Regions from separate parts of the Homo sapiens genome. Here region 2 is linked to region 1. A link means that fine-mapping ties the variant in region 1 to the expression of a gene that starts in the linked region. Tissue or cell type: whole blood. Region 1 holds a variant in brackets; the other region holds the start of a gene. All regions are shown on one strand. Distances are between the middles of the regions.

What was found. PIP is the estimated chance that this variant, and not a neighbour inherited with it, causes the effect.
Region 2: SPATS2L starts here. The variant in region 1 is fine-mapped to the expression of SPATS2L in whole blood (INTERVAL, PIP 0.91).

The regions. Positions count from the first base shown.
Region 1 is chr2:200,380,077-200,382,835 of GRCh38, reverse strand. All of the region lies in intron 2 of SPATS2L (spermatogenesis associated serine rich 2 like), which reads right to left. Among named protein-coding and RNA genes, the nearest start is that of SPATS2L, 75 kb to the right of the region's middle. The variant T/C (reference allele first, on the strand shown) is at 1,687.
Region 2 is chr2:200,305,564-200,308,322 of GRCh38, reverse strand. It overlaps SPATS2L (spermatogenesis associated serine rich 2 like), which reads right to left and starts at 1,630. Exons shown (of 13, transcript NM_001100423.2): 1 at 1,401-1,630. RefSeq lists silencers at 666-995, 1,016-1,745 and an enhancer at 2,156-2,255.

The DNA.
Region 1 (2,759 bases):
TCTGGAGAACTTATAACGTACCAGACACTCTGCTAAGTGCTTGACATACATTTTTTTTCATTTTACCGTCACAACCCTACGAATAGAAATTAAGATTATCCCCATTTTTACATACGTGGAAACTGAAGCACAAAGAGATCTAGTAACTGCTCAAGGTCCCACAGTTAAGTGGCAGGGCCAGGACTCAAACCTAAGGCAGTCCAACTCAGCAAGCCCACGGCCATTGGGCTAACAGCACCTCAAAACCATCATAAACAAGTCACAGGGCTCACTGTCTATGAAATGCAGTAAGAACTCCACCAGGGGAATAAAACCGTTCCACGGGACCTGCCTTCTCAGGCCAGACAGGCCCACAGTATATGCCTTGCGCATTTGCAGGATGCACAAACTGCAGTGCGAAACCACTCCACTCACACAGGAATGGGCATAAATGAACTTGTTTCAAAGAAATGGCTATTTTTGGCTGGGTGAGATGGCTCACTCCTATAATCCCAGCATTTTGGGAGGCCGAGGCGGGTGGATCACCTAAGGTCAGGAGTTCGAGACCAGCCTGATCAGTATGACAAAACCTCGTCTCTACTAAAAATACAAAAATTAGCTGGGCATGATGGCGTGTGTTTGTAGTCCCAGGTACTGGGGAGGGGGATGGGGTGGGGCTGAGACAGGAGAATTGCTTGAACCCGGTAGGTGGGGCGGAAGTTGCAGTGAGCTAAGATCATGTCACTGCACTCCAGCCTGGGTGACAGAGTGACTCCATTCACCACAACCCCGACCCCACCAAAAAACGGCTGTTTTCCTGCAGCTTCCTACCTCAGGTGAAGGTGCAAAGAGTTGCAGTTAGTGGGCCCTCAGCCAACAAATTGTTTCTTGCGAGCTGTGATGCAGCCCAGTGGCTCTGTGACATTCTGGGGTCTAAAGGCATAACTAACTGAATTACTAACTTAATTACTAAGAGTAATTAAAGTGTCTGTGTACCTGACTTTGGTATAGCCTAGACAATGCTATTCAAAAATCCTGCATCACTATGATCACGTAGATCCTAAGACATTTTCTCATGGCTGCCTCAGAGGGGAAGAATCAGCACTGATTTTGTGCGTAGGAAGTCAATTATGCCATGTGATTTGAGAAGCAGCAAAAATCTCTCAGGCAAAACAGCATCCAACAGTATCTCTGAGTATGGCTTCTCAAGAGACATATGCATTTCTACTTAGTTGAAGGCATGCAATATATTACCTCTGGAAGAAGGCGCACTATCACAGACTAATTTATTTCATTCTCCTACTGCCGTCAATTGGCCCTTAGCAGACAGCAGTGCTCTGACAGGATGGGAAACAAGACAGGTACCCTTCGATAGGGAGAGTTGGAAGAACTTCACATCTGTCTATAAAGGGCATCATTCATCCTGACAGGCCACACTGTGGCACGAGGGCCTCAGATCTCCAGGTTGGAGGAAATGAACTCTGTGGTCTCTTTTGGCTCTCAGGTACTACAGGTTTGTACAGGCACTGGGAGTTGATGGAAACACTTATAAAAGGCGTGGGTGCTGTCTCCAATGATGTACAGTAGTAGGCTATTTCTCTGTACAGGTCACTTTTAAACCAGAGACTAACCATCCAGGGCCCTAAGCACAATCAGGGGCACTTGCATGCCAGCTGAAGAGGGAAACAAATGCTCCTTCTTCAAAAC[T/C]GAGATTTGGTCTAAACTTAGTACTAGGTATGTTTTCTGTGGCCTAACTGTTAAATTGCCTAATTTCTCTTCCGTTTTGTCCCCTCCTCCTTTTCCCTCCATCCTTTGCTACTCCTTATCTGGCATGGTAATGACTCAGGTCTCTTATATTTCAAGTGTTTTTGCTCTTTGTTTCTGTGGTTTAATTTCCATAGTTTAATAAAAGTTCTTGTTCCTTAGAGGAAAGTCGCTTTAATTATTAGGACTGAGAAACATAAACAATGAAACAGGGTGGTGACTGAAATATGAATTTCATATGAATATACTTAGATTGGCATTTTTTGTTTAATTTGGAGAAAAAAACTCAAGGTTGCATTTTCATTCAAAGACATTTCAATGTACTCAACCCACTGTTAGAACAACTTCACTGAAAAGCATTTTAAGGGCAAATGTCAGAAAAAAATTTCACATTTAAAAGCTCTGGCTTGGCCTCTTTTGAAAAGCAGGGTTAGCCTTTGGTTTAGAAATGTCACTGCCTACTAAGTTCTTTGTGGGGGGAAGAAAGAAAATTGAATGTTTTATTTAAACAGGTCATTAACAGTCAATACTTATTTGAAAAGGCCTGCTTTCAGAGGCAGATAAAAGCTTCCAATCACTTAGAATATCACTTGAGCAGATCTAGGGCAAGATGTGCTCATGCAAGTTTGAGACCTTCATGGGAGAACCTCTTCACTCAACAGCCCCGAGTGCTGAGTGCTTGTATGGCAGGCAGAGTCATCTGCGTGGCGCACACTGTTGTATATGCTGCACGTACACGGCAGAGCAGAACACAAAACACACTTTATGGCAGTCCCAGCTTTGAATTTTCCATTTTAGTACTGGCAAATGCTTATGAATGAAGATTAACCATTTTTGCATAAAGTGCCAAACCACCTCCTCACAGCAGCAGAATGCAAATGGGCACAAAAGAGCAAAGGACAGCTAAAATAAATGCAGCGGATCTGAGGCAGTGCAAGCACAGGGGGAGGAGGACGCACGGCAGGCTTTATTAGCATTCACCTACGGCATGGTTTTTCTATTTAATTTGAAATTAT
Region 2 (2,759 bases), 75 kb after region 1:
ATAAGGCCTATCAAATACTTTATCCAGACGGCCACTCTATTTTCAGGGTATTGGTTGTATTATTTGAAGTCTTTTTTTTTTTTCAGAGTGAAGAGATTTCTGACTTCCTGTCCTCTTCCCTGCTATATTACATACATCTGCTTAAACTCTGGAAAACAGTACCAGTCAAAGTGGTGCTGAAACCTTCCTTTAAGACAAACTAAAACGATGTTAAAAAGGTTACACGACCTTACTATTTCAAGTACTGGTATAAAACCACTTTCTCTGCACAGGTTCTAAAATTTCACAGTCGTTTGTCTTAAAGTCTGTCGGCTTGTGAGGGGGCTGGTACATATTTTAATATTTAAATTTCAAAAAATAAGCAATGAGACTGTGTTTGAAGTTCAAGGGTTTTCACTAGTTCTCAAGCTACAAACCCTGTAATATAGCCAAAAGAAAACGTACAGAAAGAATCTTTCACGAAAAGTGTCAGGTCTCCAAAACCCCGACATCTGCTAAAACCAGGATTGCGGGGGGGATGAGAAGCTCGTGAAGTTCAAAAACACACCAACCCCGCGGGAACACGAAACCTCCACTCGCGAAGACGCGACGCTTCCGCCGCATCCCCGCGCAGGTGAAGACTCGGCCCTTCAGCCCCGCGTGTGCGGCAGCATGATATTCAGAGTGCGCCGGCGTCCAGCGCGAGCGCATCCTACGACAACCCCGTCTCCCGCTGGGGTCCGCAGCCCGCGGACTCCGGGGTCCCCCCGCCCAAATGCGGCGGCGCGACCGCTTCGTCCCGCGGCCAGGGCGCTCCGCGTCTGCTCCGGCCACCCCAGCCCACCCGCGCAGCGCGGACGCCAACGCATCCCACTCCCGCTGGGCGCCAGGGGCGCGGGGTTCAGTGGGGCCGCGGCCCCCGCACCCGGCTGGGATCCGAGGGCGGGGTGGTCGCGGCTGACGTGGGCTTTGCGGCTCCGGGCCAGAGAGCAGCCTGGGGGACGGTGGGTCTCTTTCCGGCTTGGGAGGGAACGGGGGCGCCCGCGCGGGAGGACGGCAGGCGAGGGACGGCGGCCGCGGGCGATTCAGATCCGGGGCGGGCGGGTACACGTCGGAGCGCGGCGGCCACACGCTCGCCCGGGGAGCGCCACTGTGCGTCCCAGCCGGCGCCTCCTCCCGCTTGCCCGCGCCGGCTGGAGAAAGGAAGGACGGCGACCTTCGCGTCCGGTCCGCGCCACCAGCCCGCCTCGGCGCCGAGCGCGGGCCACACCCAGCGCTCCGGGAGGCGGCGGAGGCTGGGCGGCCCGGGCTGCGGAATGCTCGGCCCAGCCGAGTCTCCGTCCCGGCCGCGCAGGCCCCTCCGCGTCCGCCCGCGCCCTGCATCCCCAGCCGGCCCGGCGTGGAGGGGGTCCTGGGCTTACCTCTGTGTCGAGCGCCGGCTCCTCCGTCCCGGGCCGGAGCCGGGGCCCGGGGGCGCGGTCGCCAGGGGAGGCGCCGCGGCGGTGGCGGCCCCTGCGGCTCGGAGGGCGGGCCGAGCGGGAGCCGCTGCCTGGGCCGCGCGCCGTCCGGAGCTCGCCCCGCGCTGCCGGCGCTTGCAGCGGAGGGCGCAGCCAGCTCGGCCCCCGGACTGGATTCCTTCACTGACACAACTCCGGCTCGGCCGCCCCACGCAGGGACACTCCCGCCCCTCGCAGGCTGCCCCCGCCCGCCGACCCGCCCGCCTTCCCCTCGGTGTCACTCACCAGGAGCACACACCCCAGCCGGCGCCCCTCGCTCCCGCTCGCAAACACAGCGCTGCTCACGCCTCTCTCGGGTTTTGTATCCGCTCACACGCACGTTCTGACACAGATCTCGTCCCTCCACACGCCCTCCCTAGCTCCTTTCCCACCCCACTTTCTAGAAGAATCCCAGTACAGCTTCCGCACTTTGCTTGCTTGCTCCAGACCGACTTCCTCGCCTTTCCCCAAACCTCCACTTCACCGAAACTCCCCTTGTTAATGAAAGATTTTGTCACAATCCGCACGTGTTGCAAGAGAATCATCTTCTCCTACCCGAGAAAATGAACTTTGCTCCCTCAGCACTGTCTGCAAATACGAGATGTTTTTCCTTTTAGAAGGTAGTAATGCTTTCTGGAGAGGATCCAAGCTCAAAATGTAAGCAAAGATAGCCCATTCGAAAATGACCTGAAAAATCAGGCGCGGAAAAAGTGCTGGAGCTCGGGTCAGCCCTTGGAAACCCGACCAACCCGGGGTGTTCCGCCGCCTCCTCTGCGCTGCGGGTCTGCACACTGGGCTCCAAACGTGTGTGTAATAACCAAGTTACACATGGGCATCGTGGGCTTCAGCCGTGGGTTTCTGCCTGGGAGTACAGTAGTCGGGAGAGTAAAAGCAGTTTCTCAATCATTATTCATGATGGAAGCACTTTAGATAACACTCTTCTTCCAGAGGCAGTAGAGTGAAATGCAGGCAGCTCTCCAATTCAGGTTTTTATTTATTTATTTATTTATTTATTTATTTAGAAGGGTGACTTCTTAGCTTCCTTTTTTTTTTTTTTTTTTGGCAATACCAATAACTGTTTCTGAGTGGCTCCTTGGCTGTCAAGCTCCTTACAAATATCAGACCAGAGTTTGTTATGCTTCTCGAGCTCCAGACTCTAATGGGCCTCCGAGGGCACTGCAGAATCGTACATAATCCGATGTTCAGGAATTCATAATTTGAAATAAAATACAAACACCTTTCGGATAAAGTTCAAATCTGCTAACATAATGTGGCCCTGTTGAC